Regions from separate parts of the Homo sapiens genome. Here region 1 is linked to region 2. The links come from fine-mapping of genetic effects on gene expression. A gene starts in region 2. The other region holds a variant in brackets. All regions are shown on one strand. Distances are from middle to middle. Region 1 has its middle 15 kb from the start of GIMAP4. Region 2 holds the start of GIMAP5 (GTPase, IMAP family member 5).

Evidence for each region.
Region 1: its variant is fine-mapped to the expression of GIMAP5 in whole blood (TOPMed, PIP above 0.99).

What each region holds. Positions count from the first base shown.
Region 1 is chr7:150,577,578-150,587,301 of GRCh38, reverse strand. No RefSeq gene overlaps it. Among named protein-coding and RNA genes, the nearest start is that of GIMAP4, 15 kb to the right of the region's middle. RefSeq lists an enhancer at 597-776. The variant C/G (reference allele first, on the strand shown) is at 5,541.
Region 2 is chr7:150,732,307-150,742,030 of GRCh38, reverse strand. GIMAP5 (GTPase, IMAP family member 5) reads right to left here and starts at 4,613. Exons shown (of 3, transcript NM_018384.5): 1 at 4,323-4,613; 2 at 1,104-1,152. The coding sequence starts at 1,146. It overlaps GIMAP1-GIMAP5 (GIMAP1-GIMAP5 readthrough), which reads right to left. Exons shown (of 5, transcript NM_001303630.2): 3 at 4,323-4,526; 4 at 1,104-1,152. RefSeq lists enhancers at 4,537-4,616, 5,492-6,478, 8,512-8,651.

The DNA.
Region 1 (9,724 bases), 150 kb after region 2:
TTTTACCAGAAGGATATGACTTTCTAATAAAGATGGAGTAGAGACCAGAGCTGGGACCAGAGCTCAAAGTAAGTGTCTTAATCCTCCTACTGGAACAGAAGGGAGTTATTCCCCATCCTGGGCCACCTGACAACCACAGAGTGACAGCCCCAGGAGAGAAAACCAACAGAATCTGACCCAGGCAGAGCTGCCAGAAGGAGACCTTCATTGGTGACTGTAGAGTGGAAAGAGAAAGCAAAAATGAAGGTCATGTCTGGTCACCACAGGGCAAAGGGGAAAGGACAGTCTGTTTCTTGTTTTTGGAAAGTTAAAACAATAGTAGGAAGTGCTCCAGTGGGTGTCAGGCTCTCTAACATCCTGGAATTGATCAGTCATCTGCATTCCTGAGAAGATGACAATTTATTAAGCAACTCCAGAGTTGTTTCCTCCTGGGTGTAGAGGGATAAACAGTTTCTCTTTCCAAGCCAGAGGGAGGAGAGTGAGCTTGGTATAGAAATGCCCAGTGCTGTCTTTGGTACCTTCCCCTGTAACTCAAAATCTCTAGGAAAGCTGCTGAAGCTTACATAATGCTGATCACTATTATGATGGTGGAAACTAGGCAGAAAACTGAACTTCAAGTGAATGAACTGCAAGTGCATGAAATGGGGTAAGACAGAGGACAGTGGCACACGCAGGAGGAAGTAGGGGAAGGATGAGGAAGTGAGTGCAGAAAGCTCCCTGCAGGAGGGAGTTTGGATTCTGTGTGCTGTGGAAATGCAGCTTGAGCCAAGTTTTACCATTCTCCAAGGGCAAGGGGGATGTACCACTGCCAAATGGGTGAAAAATATTTAACGAGTGCTTCACACACTCCAGGATATTGGAATCCAATGGTGAATAAGGAAGTGTTCTTCATCAGCCATAACTGTAGGAGACAGATAGCAAGTAGTCAAAATACAAGATCAAAACTACTTTGTCCTGGGTATACCCAGCATCAATGAGCATAAGTGTCTTGAATGGGCTAGGAAACATTTCCCACAAAAAGGTCAGATAGATGATGAATGCTGCTCTATGAATGCTTCAGCAGTGCCAAATCATCTTGTGGCTGACTGCCATGGTTATTACTTGAGACTGTCACTATGACAGTTACTACTGTTACTACTTGAGACCGTCATTACAAGACTGAATGAAGGGACGAACATAGAAATGAAAACTTAAGACAAAAGAAACCATTTTAAAGGAAAGGGAACTGGGGAAGAAGAAAAGGGCTCCCTGCTTCTAGTGAGCAAAGGCCGCCCCTGAGCTTCTACCACGCTTCGTATTTATTGGGTAGAATGACCAGGGAGCAGAAGGTAATGATTGGTCAGCTGCTTAATTGAACACAGGTTCACATTATTACTAACAGGCTTCAGATGTACCTAATCACAACAAACATTGCACTTGGCCGTCACTGCCCTCAGTATCCCTTCTGGGTGGAAGACACAGTTTGTCGGTCTGCCAACATTCTGCATTTGAGAAACAGTTTGCTGCCTACTCATATAGCCTCCAGTGGTATGCTGAATTGACCACGACCCTCAATCTTTTGTCCTCCAACATTTCTCCCTTTTTGTTTTTGAATTAATTGAATAAGGCAATTGCAAAATGTGCAGCCTTCAATTGCTGGTTGGTGGTTCGTTCGTCTTCACATTCAGATTCAACTGGCTCATGGCTCACACTGGGGGAACCAGGCCTGTGGCTGGGATCCATGGTTCCCTCCAATCTCCTGTTCCATGGTTGTACACACCTTGAGGGCACCCACATGGTTTGTTCATTTGCTGTGAAAACACAAGCATACCCTCGCCCCCACGTTAGTAAATCTAGCAAAGCAGAAGCAAAAAGTTTTTGTGGCTGTAGCCGGGAGGCATGCCGTTGCTGAAGCGTCTGCTCTGCAACCTGTAACTCAGCTTCTGTCTCTTTGGTTAATTACCGCAGGGTAAAACTTTCCATTGATAATGAGAGGCTGGCTCTTTCTGATTAACAGAAGGCACACAGAGAGCAAATCGAGGCTTATCCTTCTCCAGTCTCTCATTCCATCACCACCCAAAGAGAGCAGCCCAGGGAGCAGTGTGTGAGGGTGAACATTAGAAACATGAAAAGGAGCAGCATGAGAGTGAACAGCTTGTTGAAGTCCCAGAAACAAGTGAAACGGCCCTGGTTTGAATGCCTCTGACATATCTCCCCCTTTACAAGAGGACCCTTAATCCTAAGGGTTGCAGAGGGATGAAGATCTGTCTTCTGTAACTTCTTCAGGCTGAATAGGGGTGATGATATTCCTGCCTAACTATTAGGGTCTCTGTTTCTGCTTCAGAAGATAGTACAGGTGTCTCTACTACTGAAAAGGGCAGTACAGGCCAATTCTCATCCTCCCTCTCCTGCCCTCCACCCCCGGTGGGTTCAACGTGCAGGGCAAAAGACTCCTTTAAACCTTGAGACACAAAACACGAACCGCCCATCCAGTCTGAGACATGACAGAATCTCAGCACTCTGTTGAACACTTTGAGCTGTTCCTACTCCCACTAGGGATGTAGAAGATAGTTTTAGGGACCGAGATAGGGGCCAATTGTTTTTAGATATTACTGACACACTGACACATCAGCTCCTATATCCATAAGCCCATAAAACTTCTTTCCTTTGATTTGCACTGTATAGGTGGGTCTATTAGATGCCACGGGTTGTGATAGGTAAGTCTCTCTCCCAGTTGCACTTCCAAATCCCTGACCTCCTCACTTCTTCTTATGTAGAGAGGGGTACAATTTATAGGGAATAAGCAACAGTTGAGCAATATATTCTCCTGGTTCAAAAACCCAAAGATCTTGTGACGTTACCACTGCTTGAATTTCTCCTTCACAATCCCAATTACCAACTCCTGGGCCTGTAAGTTAAGACAGCTTTTGCCCAAAATTAATCCCATGTATCCTGTTGGCAAAGGTCCACAAATGCCAATGGGAATCTTAGTGAGTTTGTTTCTTCCAATTAACGTAACCTGCTCTCTAACTGGGCCATCTAATCCTGCGCTTCCAGGTGTTCCTGGGGAGAGGGAATCAATATGCCTCTGGAAACCAATCCCTGAAATGAAGCTGTTCTCTGGACAGGGAATGCCCTCATTTTTTGAGGTGCCAGGGTCCAGGCCCCCTTCTCACTTCCCAAGAGGGGGCTGCCATTTTGATGAAACTTTGAGTGGCATTGATTAACTCAATGATTCCCTTTATTGCAATGAGGGCCAAGTCCTGGCATTTTTTCTGTTAAGAGGGGAACTGTGTTACAAGATCCCTTTTGCCCAGAGGTCTGGCAGTGTTCTTTTTTGAAATGTCCAATTTTTCTACACTTATAACACTTTCCCACATTAGGGCTTGACCCTTGGCTTCTTTTAGATCTGTCAGCTACCAAATTAGCCATTGTCTGAGTCAATACTGCAGAGCAATGAAGCTCAGTTCCCACATCCCGACAAGCTCCGAGAAAACCTCCCAAGTTCTCTGCACATCTCACAGGTGCCAATGCAGGTTTACAATCCCAGAAAGCCAAAGCTAAAGTTAGCCTTTCTGTAGCCACAAAGGAAGATGGTACAAGCCAATTTCCATTCTCCCTCTCCTGTTCACTACTTTTGATAGGTGCTGTAGGTGGGGCAAAAAATTCCCTAAAACCCTGAAATAACAAAAAGATAGTACGTACCGAACTCCAAACAAAAGAGCGAAGAAATAGCCAAATTCTTCCCCATGTTACCCTGATTCAAAAACTTCCCATTCTTTGTACCTCTAGGGCCCTGACCTTATGTTGCTGCAGGCAGACTTGTAACAGGGTTTCTCATTCGTCTGGTTGGTTTTAATTTTTTCTGGGCTTTGGTTTTTTCTGTTCCAGCAGACCTTCCTCATTCAAGTCCCTTTAGGACCCAACTCTCCCTATCTGTCCCAGCAAGTTTTGCTAGTCTTTATCTATCCCTATCTGTCCCTCTCAGTCCCTATAGCCCCTGTTAGTTCCTGCAAGTTCTTGCAAGTCCCTGTCTTTCCCTACCTATCTCTATTTGTCCCTATTTGTCTATTTATCTCCATTTATCCCTCCTTATCTCTATTTGTCCCTGCAGGCCTCTTCAGGTCCCTTCAGGTCTCTTTTTGTCTCTGATAGTCCCTGTTTGTCCCTGTTCAGGTGCCACTTTTGGCTGACTGCCATGGTTATTACTTGAGACTGTCACTATGACAGTTACTACTGTTACTACTTGAAACCATCATCACAAGACGGAATGAAGGGACAAACGTAGAAATGAAAGCTTAAGACAAAAGAAACTTTTATAGGAAGGGGAACTGGGGAAGAAGAATAGCACTCCTCCTTCTAGTGAGCAAAAGCAGCCCCTGAGCTTCTACTGCACTTCGTATTTATTGGGTAGAATGGCCAGAGAGCAGGAGGTAACTACTGGTCCGCTTCTTAATTGATCACAGGTTCATATGATTACTAACAAGCTTCAGATGTACCTAATCACAAGAAACATCGTGCTTGGGGTGTAACTGCCCTCAATATCCCTTCTGGGTGGAAGATGCAGTTTGTCAGTCTGCCAAAATTCTGCATTTATGAGAAACAGTTTGCTGCCTACTCATATAGCCCCAGTGGTATACGGAATTGATCACGACCCTCAGTCTTTCGACCTCCAACATCATCTGTTGTTTCTGAATCACGGAGGAGCCTAGAATGATATTTCTCATCACCTCTTACACTGTATGGTCCAAGTGAGAATAAATCAAGATGAGACATTCACATGAGATTTGGATGGTGGACAAGGAAGAAGGACCATTCTCTGGCAGCAACAGCAGAGAGACAATGAGCAGACCTACCTGCATGTCACAGCAAATGAGCGCCTCAAAACCACCCAGCTCTGTGCATCAGCAAGCTTCCAAGACCTCTGCATTCCCAGCCCTCCAAGGGGTGGGCCAGCCTCTAATTTCCTGGATTTGAAAATATATCCTACCTATACCTACATATGCTTCAATTTTCCTGATCAAATATTCTGTATAAGTGGCTGTATAAGTGGAGGAAGATGAAATCCTTTTGGGGGGCAATCAGGGCAAAATCATGTTGGGTTCCAAAAATGGAACAGAGCATGGTCCAGTAATCCTGGGTCATGAAACATGAAAATGAGACTGCTTACAAGGGATTTGTGTCAAATATCTAGCTAGAATTCTTACTTGACAAGTGTAAATGATTTTAAAACATCTATACCATGAATTCATATTTTGTCCTGAATTTACAACGCCTCTCATAAATTTGGAAATATTTTAAAACAAAACATTCCCCAGGGTATATAAGTACTAAAAACTCTTAACCTTTCACAATGTGGTTTTGTTGTTGAAGCTGTGCTCACAATCCATCTCTTCAGAGCCCTGACAGTGAGGCAGCCAGAAAGGACCCATGCAGGGGAATTCCTTGCTGTTCTCTTTTGCCTTGTCCTCTCAGTGGCTGGGGACAAGGCAAGTAGCTACCAGCTGAGTTGATAGTGGACTCAAAGTGTTTCATTCAAAATGGGTGCCTCAGTGGAAGAC[C/G]TTTCATGTTGGCAAACATTTAAATATCCAGTCTTTTCCCCAATTTTCCCACAAAAGCTTTCATAATTGAAATAATATTTTCTTTTACCACCTCTCCAAATAAAAATGTGGACAAACATAAACAGAGAGAAATTTTATAGCTTTACAGACTTACGCTAGTAAAGAAGAGAGTTCTAAAATCAAATATCTGAGCTTTCCATCTTAAGAAGAGGAAAAGCAGAGCAGTGATACTACTGTAACCCAGAACCTTACTTGTTTAACTGGGAAACATTGGAGGCATTGCCAAGAATAAGGCAAGCATGCTTGTCATCTCCACTACTGCTCAACATTATAATGGAGGTATTGGCCAATGCAATCAAACAAGATAAATCAATTAGGTGCACAAGAATAAGTAAAGAAAGGCAAACTGTGGAACATCCATATGGTAAAATACTACTCAGAAAAAAAAGAACAGGCAACTCAGATGACTCTCGAAAGCATTATGCTGAGACAAACAAACCCAATCTCAAAAGGGACTTCTTTTACTCATCTCTAGATTCTCAGTGTCTGCTCTAGAACCAACCATGAGATACAAGGAATCAATGAGTGGTAATGAGTGCGTGAGTAGGTATGAAGCCTCAAAACTCTTGAGAGAAGGAAACATGTCTCCCTCTCCTCTTGTATTAATCACAATGCATAGTATTTGCCAAGGACCTTCTGTCTGCCTTCTCTCCTGGGAGGCAAACAGGCAACACTCTTCTTAGAGTTTTTCACTTGGGCTTCTCATCTGCTTGCTGCTTCTTAAGTCAGAACCTTTTTCTTTCCCTCATCTGCAGCATTAACCTGAATGCAAGGGGAAGAATAATTGAGTGTGTGTTACACTGATAACAACCACTGCAGTTAGAGATTTTTTCCTATTAAACCTGAATGTACTTCCTCTTGGGAGGTATGTGTGGCTTTTTGTTCAAATATTTGCTCACAGACAGTAGTAATACAATAGGTGAGAGCAGAAGCTGTCTTACTCTGAGTGATTATTTCTAAAGGAATCGCACATTTCATTGTGTAGTGCTTCTCTTATATTTAAGCCTTTGCTAACTTTTGTTAAATGTACAGTCTAAACTTATTTGTGCTTTGGGGAAATAAGGAAGATATGTATATCCTGGGGTGGAGCCAAGATGGCCAAATAGGAACAGCTTGGGTCTACAGCTCCCAGCGTGAGCGACACAGAAAATGGGTGATTTCTGCATTTCCATCTGAGGTACCAGGTTCATCTCACTAGGGAGTGCCAGACAGTGGGTGCAGGACAGTGGGTGCAGCGCACTGTGTGTGAGCCAAAGTAGGGCAAGGCATTGCCTCACTCAGGAAGTGCAAGGGGTCAGGGAGTTCCCTTTCCTAGTCAAAGAAAGGGGTGACAGACAGCACCTGGAAAACCGGGTCACTTCAACCTTAATACTGTGCTTTTCCAACGGGCTTAAAAAACGGCACATCAGGAGATTATACCCTGCACCTGGCTTGGAGGGTCCTATGCCCACGGAGTCTTTCTGATTGCTAGCACAGCTGTCTGAGATCAAACTGCAAGGTGGCAGCAAGGCTGGGGGAGGGGTGCCTGCCATTGCCAAGGCTTCAGTAGGTAAACAAAACAGCCAGGAAGCTCAAACTGGGTGGAGCCCACCACAGCTCTAGGAGGCCTGCCTGCCTCTGTAGGCTCCACCTCTGGGGGCAGGGCACAGACAAATAAAAAGACAGCAGTAACCTCTGCAGACTTAAATGTCCCTGTCTGACAGCTTTGAAGAGAGTAGTGGTTCTCCCAGCACGCAGCTTGAGATCTGAGAATGGGCAGACTGCCTCCTCAAGTGGGTCCATGACCCCCGAGCAGCCTAACTGGGAGGCACCCAACAGTAGGCGCAGTCTGACACCTCACACGGCTGGGTACTCCTCTGAGACAAAACTTCCAGAGGAACGATCAGGCAGCAGCATTTGCGGTTCACCAATATCCACTGTTCTGCAGCCACCGCTGCTGATACCCAGGCAAACAGGGTCTGGAGTGGACCTAGCAAACTCCAACAGACCTGCAGCTGAGGGTCCTGTCTGTTAGAAGGAAAACTAACAAACAGAAAGGACATCCACACCAAAAACCCATCTGTACGTCACCATCATCAAAGACCAAAAGTAGATAAAACCACAAAGATGAGGAAAAAACAGAGCAGAAAAACTGGAAACTCTAAAAAGCAGAGCACCTCTCCTCCTCCAAAGGAATGCAGCCCTCACCAGCAATGGAACAAAGCTGGACAGAGAATGACTTTGACGAGTTGAGAGAAGAAGGCTTCAGATGATCGAACTACTCTGAGCTACAGGAGGAAATTCAAACCAATGGCAAAGAAGTTAAAAACTTTGAAAAAAAATTAGATGAATGGATAACTAGAATAACCAGTGCAGAGAAGTCCTTAAAGGACCTGATGGAGCTGAAAGCCAAGGCTCCAGAACTAAGTGAAGAATGCAGAAGCCTCAGGAGCTGATGCAATCAACTGGAAGAAAGGGTATCAGTGATGGAAGACAAAATGAATGAAATGAAGCAGGAAGGGATGTTTAGAGAAAAAAGAATAAAAAGAAATGAACAAAGCCTCCAAGAAATATGGGACTGTGTGAAAAGACCAAATCTACGTCTGATTGGTATACCTGAAAGTGACGGGGAGAAGGGAACCAAGTTGGAAAACACTCTGCAGGATATTATCCAGGAGAACTTCCCCAATCTAGCAAGGCAGGCCAACATTCAGATTCAGGAAATACAGAGAATGCCACAAAGATACTCCTCAAGAAGAGCAACTCCAAGACACATAATTGTCAGATTCAACAAAGTTGAAAGGAAGGAAAAAATGTTAAGGGCAGCCAGAAAGAAACGTCGGGTTACCCTCAAAGGGAAGCCCATCAGACTAACAGTTGATCTCTCGGCAGAAATTCTACAAGCCAGAAGAGAGTGGGGGCCAATATTCAACATTCTTAAAGAAAAGAATTTTCAACCCAGAAGTTCATATCCAGCCAAACTAAGCTTCATAAGTGAAGGAGAAATAAAATCCTTTACAGACAAGCAAATGCTGAGAGATGTTGTCACCACCAGGCCTGCCCTAAAAGAGCTCCTGAAGGAAGCACTAAACACGGAAAGGAACAACCAGTACAAGCCACTGCAAAAACATGCCAAAATGTAAAGACCATCAAGGCTAGGAAGAAACTGCATCAACTAATGAGCAAAATAACCAGCTAACATCATAATGACGGGACCAAATTCACACATAACAATATTAACCTTAAATGTAAATGGGCTAAATGCTCCAATTAAAGGACACAGACTGGCAAATTGGATATAGGGTCAAGACCCATCAGTGTGCTGTATTCAGGAAACCCATCTCACGTGCAGAGACACACATAGGCTCCAAATAAAGGGATGGAGGAAGATCTACCAAGCAAATGGAAAACAAAAAAAGGCAGGGTTTGCAATCCTAGTCTCTGATAAAACAGACTTTAAACCAACAAAGATCAAAAGAGACAAAGAAGGTCATTACATAATGGTAAAGGGATCAATTCAACAAGAAGAGCTAATTATCCTAAATATATATGCACCCAATACAGGAGCACCCAGATTCATAAAGCAAGTCCTTAGTGACCGACAAAGAGACTTAGACTCCCACACAATAATAATGGGAGACTTTAACACCCCACTGTCAACATTAGACAGATCAACGAGACAGAAAGTTAACAAGGATATCCAGGAATTGAACTCAACTCTGCACTAAGTGGACATAATAGACATCTACAGAACTCTCCACCCCAAATCAACAGACTATACATTCTTTTCAGCACCACACCACACCTATTCCAAAATTGACCACATAGTTGGAAGTAAAGCTCTCCTCAGCAAATGTAAAAGAACAGAAATTATAACAAACTGTCTCTCAGACCACAGTACAATCAAACTAGAACTCAGGATTAAGAAACTCACTCAAAACTGCTCAAATACATGGAAACTGAACAACCTGCTCCTGAATGACCACTGGGTACATAACAAAATGAAGGCAGAAATAAAGATGTTCTTTGAAACCAATGAGAACAAAGACACAACATACCAGAATCTCTGGGACACATTCAAAGCAGTGTGTAGGGGGACATTTATAGCACTAAATGCCCACAAGAGAAAGGAGGAAAGATCTAAA
Region 2 (9,724 bases):
GAATCTTGCATGTAGAAAGCCCCATTGGAAGCCCATGCTTGGATCCACAGCCAGGAATTAGAACTGTTGCATTAAGGGGATGCTTTAAGCACTTCATCTGGATTGTGGCAAATAGAGCTTTCCTGAAAGAAAATGGTCCTTGTGTTTTCCCCTGCGTGGTGTTTAGGCCAGCTCCATGGAGAATTATTAGAAAGAGGCAGGGGATTAGTAGTTACAAGTGAGAAAATCCAATTACTTCTCTTTCACCCACACATTTCCAGGCACACTTGTATAGACACACTCCACACATTCATCCAAGTCTTGAGGGTCAAGGAGGTCTCCACTGGCAAATCTATAGTGACCCACTGCCGGGGGTCAGCTGCCTGTCCCTGGGTCTGTGCCCTCTGGATAGGGAGTGAAATGTTTGAAATTGAGATGACATAGGTTGTAGTTAATGTTAGGGCAGCGTCTGGGAGATGACCCTAGGGTGGATGGCTCAAAAAGGTGGAAGATAAGCTCAATAGAAGCATGTGTGTTGAAAAGCTCATCTATGTGGCTGATTGAAGCACACAAAATTATAGCAGAAGTGGTGTTGGAGAGGGTGACACTGTGGCAGGAGCGAAAATCTTCAGGCACGAAGAGGGGAGAACCTGTGGATTTCTAGAGCCCAAATGAATTCGAAGTGCATTTTAGGCTCTTAAAAATCTATTATTTTATTTCTCCCACTCTGGGTTGGTTCTTCGTTTTCTTAAGTTATTCTGTGGTGTTTTGTAGCAAGCACAATGACTAAATCCCTATGGGGACCTTTTCTTTTTGAGCTGTCAGCAGACAAAGAAAGAGAAAACATATTCACCATTTGCTTCCAGACCCTTCAACCTATGACTTGGTTTCCTTTCCACATTTCCCACATACCTGATGCAGGGAGAGCATCACACTATGGTGTGTGTGTGTGTCTGTGTGTGTGTGTGATGGTTTGATAACACACACGTGATGATAGTTGCCTTTATCTTCTTCATTTAAAATGAATGGGTTTCTGCCACTGTGTTTTAGATGGGGGTAGATGGGGAGAGAATTGTGATTCTCCCAAGTGTCTGGGGCTCTTGAGAACTTCAAGACTTTCTTACCTTCAGCCATAGTTCCATATTTGCCCCTCTGGAATCCTCCCATTCTCTCCTGGAATAAAAACAGGAAAAGGATAAAAAGCAGATGTACGTTTGGGAGCTGGTAGAGCCTGAGGGCACCTCAATTCAGACATCTAAGAATAATCATTCTCAAATGAGCCATTTCCATCCCTAATTTTCTAACTCATACTTTACTTTGAAACATCTGTAAATAACTTTAAACAAAGCAGGTGATGTTAGATGTTAGGTTATGCTAAAATAGTGCACGATTACTTCCCTCCCCTCAACTTACAGAAAATCAGGAAATATTTTGAAGCAAATCAGTTGATTATCTCCCCCAACCAGAAAGGCATGAAATGGAGAAAGCATTCTTCTATGGAACAAAGAGTAGGCATTAAAAAAATTGAAATTAAAGTAACAAACTTACCAGAATAGAGAAAAAAAAATTGCCTTGCTGTAAATAAGATTGGTTTATTTGAAGTAGTGGAAACTTCCAGTCCCAGAAAGTCTTTGTGTCAAATGGACATTCCAGCGGCGGAGAGGAAATTACAAGGTACTGTCCAGTGGGAGGATGGAAGTGGGGATCAGGGACACGAAGAACTGACGTGAGAGGAAATGGTATAGGGGGACCGGTATGACCGCTTTCCCACCCTGACGGTTGGTGGAGAGGAGGTAGTGAGGTGATTGAAGAGAAAGAATCAACTTCAGGCCGAATTCAAGAACAACTCATTGCCTGCTCCGGGTTTCCAGCATTGTGCAACAGTATTGGGGATGTACATTTTCCACGTGACTGGTTATTGCCAAATATGACTCCCAGGGAGTTGAGTTAACTCCTATTTGCACCACCCATTTATAAGAAGTCCCCAAATCTTCACAGGCACTTAGTAATATTACACTTTTAATTTCCTGTCATCCTTATGGGCATAAATAAGGATGTCTTAATTGGCTTAAACTTACATTTTACTGATTATCATTAAATTAAAAACAGTTTTCATGGTTTATTTGCTATTTTGGTAATTTATAAACTTCAATTTTTAATAACTTCTGTGATTTCTATCTTTTCCACATTTTTCTATTCATTCAGTGGATTTTCTTGGCCTTCTTTAGGTCAAGAAATCTATTTTTATATTATCAGAATGTATTAAGACAGCTTCCTGCCTCCCTCCCTTTCCCTTCTTTCTTTTCTTCCTCCTTTCCTCTTTACCCTCCCCTCTCTCCTTTCTTTCTTTTTCTTAAGCCCAGAGAAGAACATTTTCCTCTCTCCCACACCCTGTTCTCGTCTCTGGTAAATTATGCTTCTGGCTTTTGCTAAAATAGCACCAGTTCCCTGACATCCTCTCTACTTTAGATGACGTTTTCTGAGGTTTGGAATCAACATAATGATGTGGTAAGGGTCAAGATGACAGTGGTAATGATATTGATTATGAACATCATAATTGTAATAAGCCTCTGTGAATACATTTATAATTTTCAAAGTTATTTCATCCTTCTTATTTTAATTGCTCTCTCAAATTCCCTGTGATGTGATCAAAACTGATCTTAAAATTTCTATTAAAATGCAAGGAAACTGAGCATTAAATGACCTGCCAAAGGTCACATATTTACAATGGAGCTAGCATCAGGAAATGGCTCCTTTTGCTGTGTATTGTCCTTGATTCCACAGGTGGAAAAAGAGACTTTTCCAAAAAAGTCAACAAACCTCTTGGAACATGTGTACAATGCTGCCACTCCCTGGTCAGGAGACAAATTAATTGGACAGCTAGAAGCCTACCCTAAAACCAACACACAGAATTTTATTGCAAAATCTTGAGTGCATTTCTTATAAAAGGTTATTCAAAAATAAAATTGCTGGTGGCAGGAGTTTCTCTGAATTGAGGTCTTTTCTTTTAAAACAGCCAATTGCCTGTCACAAAAGCCAGTCAAACTATGTTATGTTAGCCAATGACCAGCAACAATAGCTCTCCCAATCCAAGCTTTCTGAGTGGATCAGGCTGCATTGAGGAATACATTTTTTGGCAGATATTCACAAATAACAAAGTGTTCACAGGTGAGTCAGAAAGGATACTGATGGCAATGCTAAAATGAGTCATGGAGAAGATTATAAAAGAACTGAATAGAGCGTGGTGGACACACCGTAGGCTTGAAGGAATGTGATACGTGTTGGTCTACAGGGCAGACAAAAGTGGAGGAATTGAGAATGAAGACAGGCGTCTTCTCCAAAGGAAAAATTTTACTAATCGTCCCACAAAAGAGACCAAAGTTCATGAGAGATTGGAAGGCAGTGTGCAAGCAAGACAGTAGCAGCCTCTGGCAAGCTGGTGGGAGGGTCTGGCTCAGGGAAAAGGGTGAAGCAAATGAACAAAATGCACATTCCGATTTGAAAATTGCATGAACCTGATTTTACCATGAGAAGAGCTTATTTTAGCAAATTACAAGAAAGCAGCCTCTTCCATACTATTTTAGAAAAGATCAAACCACTTCTTGTCTTCCTTGTTCATAAGTATCTCCTTCACCCATCTGCCCCAGCCCATGTATTTCCAGGTATTGGAATCATGTGTTTTGCGGTTTGGTGTGCGTCCGGCAGGGTGTCATAGGAAAAATGTGGGGCATCTGGGGGAGCATGGGGTAGTTTTCAGAAGTTGAAAGTCACAAGACAAGGTCCACTCAGGGGTCTTGTTTGGAACATGAGGCTCCTGGGGTGGGAAAATATCCCACATTTGCCCTGGGGAGCCCTAAGAATCCATCCTCAGCTCCCAGGCTTGTCTGAGACATGGTACGTGTCTGGCTGGTCTGGGACAGGAGAAATTAGGAGGGTAAAATTGAGAAGAATGCCCCGGCATGCTAGGGGAGATGGGGGAAAGCCTATCACCCTCTGGGAGCTTCAGTTCTCCCATCTGTCCCACTGATGAGAGGATCAGTTCAGCCTTACTCCCTGAGAGTTTCATGGAGATCGACTTGGCTAAGTAATGGGCAATGGGGCAGCAAAGCCCGCTGTCCTGGGACTGGGCTGTGAGTGCAGGCACAGATTCTTCAGGCTGTGCTCCACCAGCTGTGCACCTGCTGATGCCCGCAACACTCATCACCATTGCCCCGTTTTACTGACCAGCGAACCCAGAAGTGAGGGGATCTGTGCAAGGTCATGTCAGAAATGAACAGCTGTGACCAAACTGTGATCCTTTCAATTCCCAAAGTCTCTGTGAGCATAAACCCAGTTCTCCTTACCAGAAACGGTTGTTGTGCCCTGTCCTCCAGGGTGGCAGTCACTGAGGCTCTGGCCGCTGGTCCTCTCTCAGGAAGGTGAAGTGGCAGCAGAGAGAGTCCTGCTCTGCGTCTGTGTGCGGGGATGCTGTTCACAGGGCTGAGGGAGGTTGAGCAGACGCAGTTAAGGAGGAGCCATGTGCTGGGGCTGAAAGCTCCATGACTCAGCTGCACAAAAAGAAAAGTAGAGATTATGGAGTGTGTCCCCCACACCTCTGCGGACTAGGACACCCTGGTGTTGGCTGGAAACTGATTGGGAACAAGACCCTGAAAACCAGCCGAATGCAGCGATGTGCTGCTTCCTTAACGGGTCACTTCCTGTCATGAGCCTGCCCTGGGACAGTGTGCCCCATCCCATTTCCTTTTTTTTTTTTTTTTGACTGTTTCAAGCAAGCAGTATTTGGAAGAAGGAGATATGAAGGGAATTACAGACTCTCCCACTTCCAAGTTCAGAAAAGGTCCCTAGTGACTGGAAAGTTCTGGGCAGCAGCTGCTGCCCTCAGCACCCATCACCGGGGCACCTTCTCCTCCCAGCACTCTTGGGCCCCTTCTCACAGGCTCTGCTTCTGGAAAGTTTCTGCTAACCAGGATCAGAAAGGCACTCTGGTCCAAAGAGGACCAGAACAAGCCCTTGCAGGGTTTGACTCTGGGCTCGTGACTGACCCTGGTAAGCTGTCTGGCACGTGATGGAGCCCACCCTGTGGGGACATTGTGGAGTCTACGTGTCAGTTTATCTGGTAAGGGTTGAAAGCAGGGTGATAGAACCTCTATTTTTGAATTGATTGCCATTTAAGGCTAGAGCAGTGGACATAAACCTGATTGCCATTTAAGGTTAGGGCAGTGGACATAAACCTGATTGCCATTTAAGGTTAGGGCAGTGGACATAAGGCAATTATGCGATGGAGAACACAGTGGGACTTAGGCGGAGGGCCGTCATGGCCCAGAGAATCCCCATATCCTTTTCTGTTGACATTTGAAGTGGGGCTTACAGTCATATGGTAACAATTGTCTAAGACTTGATGGGAAAACAATTTTAAACAATCTCCTGCTAGCCCAGAAAACCTCTCCACAGAGGCAGAAGAGAAAGAAAACAATTTTATTATTGAATGTCCATTGAACCAGAATGTGATCTGGATCCCAGACAATCCAGGAAGAGATTGCAAAGACGGAGAGGGATGCCACCTGGTTATACAGCCAGGCAGGTGCCACCTATTACACACGTGTTCTCAAGTTAAACCATAACTAATCCTCAAGTAAGAGGACTTGACAGCACCCTTTGACATGCATAGTTCATCCTAAATTCACTCAGTAATCATCTGTGTTGGCTAATTGTCTTTCCAGAGGAAAAGTAAACTTCTCACATCCTCTATGGCAAGAGGAAGATTTGCAACTCAGAAAGGTGCTGGCAGATGTCAGGCTCCTACCTAAGTTAGGCTCCTAAATTAGGCCCCTATTTTCACACAGAGACTGGGAGGTGGGGACGCTACCTTCCTTGATGTTTGCATTTCAAAGGGATGGCTTCCAGATGCTCTACAGACAGCCCTGGGCTGTCAAACAGCTTTTAAAAAGATTTGCATTACAAAGGGTAGAGAAAGATTTCACACTTACAAGGTTTCTAAAGAAAATGCTCTAAGAAGGGAGGGGTAATTCTTTTCCACTTTGTTTTTTCCCCAGAAAAGAGAATTAATGTTTTCTCCTTATTTTTGATTTTTATTCGCCCTTACATTTTTAAATTCTTCAAGGACTTTCAACCTAGTCAGCACTCATAATTTATGTGAATTGAGCAGAGCAGGGCAGAAAGTGGGCTGTAATCTGACCAGGATTTCACCCTTGCTAGATAGGGACCAGGTACTCCCCCAGCACCTGGCTGGAATCTTTCAAAAACTTGACCAACAGAGTTCACATCAAAATCTTATAAACAGTGAGGGGCACCGAAGCTAACCATTCCCATCAATGTAGCAAATTCACTTAATTCTGGCAACATCTTCAAACTCCTTCTCTTCTTTCCTTTTGGTTTGAACTATTTGCAAACATTATTTTTATCCACTGAACTGGGTGCTCTGGCACCCCAGCTAAGGACTGATTTTCTGCTTTGAGATCTGTTCTCTAAGTCTTATCTCTTCTCTAGCAGTTCCCAGGCTCCTCTTATGGCTCAAAGAGACCCCAGGGAGTCAATGATGAAATGTGTTAACTGGTCTCTATCAGTTTTCTGGGTGAGATCGTGGGCTTTTTAGAGGCCAGGGACTGTCTTTAGGTCAGGATCTTGCTAGAACTTAGCCCTAGAAAGTGCTCAAAAATACTTACTGAGTAAATCAGTAAAACATACAACTTAAATGCTCTAACTCTTCCCTCATGTCCCCTTTTGTAGTTACATTTAGTGCTAGAAGAATAATCTTAGGTAGCTACTTTCAGAAAGTAGGGTTGTAGAAATTCGTATATATCCAGATATGAAAGGATTTCCAAAACTAGACTCTTTGTGCCTTTTTCCACACCCTCTCTATTCCTCTGTTCAGATTTGCAAAACAAACAAACCCCCAGGAAACCTGGGACACCGAGGAAGTGGCCATTTTCCCTACCCTTCTGTTTGACACCAAATTCAATCCCTTTTCAGCCTGGACAGAGACAGTTCTCTACCAAACCTGACATAGTACAAAATATGATGAATCATTACTGAAAGCATGTCTCTATCCATCCCCAGCCACCTCTGCTATCCCTGCTTTCTCTCTGTGATGCTCCCTGGTGCACAGAACTGAGCACGCTGAGTTGCAACTCATGTGCTCTAGCTATGTGATGAAGTTTCTGGAGTTCTGAGTGCAGTAGCCATCTCAGAGTAGATACCTGTAGGCTGCCCTGAGAATCAGCTTTATTAAGCTGAGGAGATGCCAAAGCTCCATCTCGGAGACATTTTGGGCAGCCACCTTCCCTACCAACTTGGAGTGATTCAAGGACCCCTGGGTTCATGCCTTGGACCTTCTGTTTGAAATGGGAGACAGACAATTATTGCCTTCTGATGAAGGAGGAAGGGAGAATGAGGGAAAGAGGAGGCATGGCATTTACCACTTTCTCCTGAGCCACTGGGCTGAGGTCCTAGGTGACCAACCGCCAACTTGCCCTGAATTTGACTGGATTTAGTACTACAAGGCCCACGTCCTGGGAAACCCCTTAGTCCCAGTCAAAGTGAGCCTGTTGGTCACCACAAGGTCTCCTAACTCTTAGTCATGCTTGCTGTCTTTCACCATCTGGCCTCTGTCTCTTCATCCATCATCTCACCCTATTCCATGAAGGTCTCCTATGAACATGACTAGTGGGAAATGTGGAAATGAAACCCCAAGTCAATGTTGGGAGGCCCTGAAGCCAAATGCTGAAGTGTGATTTCTCTTCCTTGTCGGTAGTCACTCTAAAAAAAGTTCTTTCTTGGAACTTTTTTTTAGAACATTGTGTTCTTACGAAAATCAAAGAGCAGGTAAAAGATGCTGAAAAAAAGTATTAAAATGCAGGCATTTCTATATTATCAACATTATTATTTCCTTTGTGTCTGGACAAGGTCATGGCTACTCTTTTCAGGGCTGAGAGGGTCCAGGTCAGGGGCGCCTCTAATTGGAGGTGAGGAAAGGAGCCTCCTGGATCAGGGTGCTCTACAGAGACCACAGCTGCTGAAGAGGCTTCACGGTGGGGGCGGAGATCATCTAGGGGTGAATCCAGGAGGTAGAGTTGAGGATTCAGAAACATCCAGGTCAATAAAAGGGGCCACTATTTGAGCCCACAGTTGACATACAACATGGAGGAAGGATTAACGATGCCATGAAGTACACTCTAAGTATCTAAATATTGCATCTTTTGAAGCAAATTTACCCTATTCTCCTGAGCCTTTGCACCACACCAGACCTAATGGGTGGTAAGTCCAGACAGCACCCATGGGAAGCAGACAAAAAGCCACCCTCGTAAGGAATCTGAAATCTTATTAGAGAGACAAGACTTATGCAAATGAAAGACAATGAGTAAGGGTCCCAAATGAATGTTTTGGACAAGTGTATTTCATACACCCCATTGTAGAGCATCAAAACATGAAATAGAGTAGAATAGAAACTATCAAAATTAGTCACACAAAATATGAGTGTATGTAAGCTCTGGGAAGCAGTATAAAACTGAGGGTCATGGTAAAAAATACATGATAGCACAGTTTTAGACAATGTATTAAGCAGGATTTTGGGAAGAAAAGAGGTCAAAACGGACCAACCCCAAGGAGAAAGCCCTGAGGTGTGGAGTAGAACTTGGACATGTGATCAAGGTTGACTGGAGGTGGAGAAGGGGCCCTTTGAAGCGGTTATTTTAAAGGAAGCAGAGAGTATGTAGGTGTCAGGGCAGGACAGTGCCTAGAGCAGGTTTAAGAGCTTGTTGTCATGACCTCTGGAGTTGTCTGGGTAGCTGATGTCTAGTTGTCTAATTCCATAGCATTGCATTTAGAGTAGAACCTTCACCCATTTAGTTAGCTCAAAAGGCCAAGAGGGAGCAGCAGGACTGAATGCATGCCTTGACGCTCTCCTCTAGTTGTTTATTAGATGAGTTAGATGAGGTCCAGATGGGATGATAAGGTCCCTGAAGATTTCCTGGCTGGCACCATGGAGGACAGCTCCTGTTGCATCTGGAGTGGGGTGGACCCTCCTGAAAGCCTAATGAGACCCTCCTCTACCCTGACATTATCACCTGCAACTGAATGTCTCCTGGTGAGCATCTTGGGATCCACAAGCTGATATCTTCCTGTCACGAATAATGTTTCTGAGCTTGCTGAGGTGTACCCTCACCAGGCTGATTTCCTTTTGAGTCATTACATTGGAAATTCTCGGCCCTTGAGCTGTCTATCAATTATAGGTTTGTTGAGATATTTTCCCCCTCACCCTTCAGAGGGGAGACAAAGAGCCCCCCAAAACCCCAAGGTGGCTCGAGGCCTGAGATCAGTTGCATCTGAGGTTGAGAGCAGCCTCTTCTGTTTACACACTATGTTGTGACAAATGTTACCATGTGGACATCGACATGAAAAAGTTGGGAAGCTCTACTTTTGATGAAAAAAATATAATATACAAAGTCCTGCTGTCTGGGTCTTGCTTTCCTTCTGTCTGAAATTACTATTGACATTTGACATCATGGGGTATCAGAGTTACCAACAGGCACATCTGTAGGACTGGCCCAGGCTTCTTGGGGTGCACATTGTCTTTTAACATATCCCACCCCAAGATCTCTGGTTCCTCCTCTCCTGAAGCTATCAGACCTCCTCTCCTGAAGCTATCAGGAGATTCTGTCAGATTCTGCCCCAAGCAGTGCTCCCAAGCTGCCCCACCGTCTCTGTCAAGGCCAGGTTTTCCCAGATC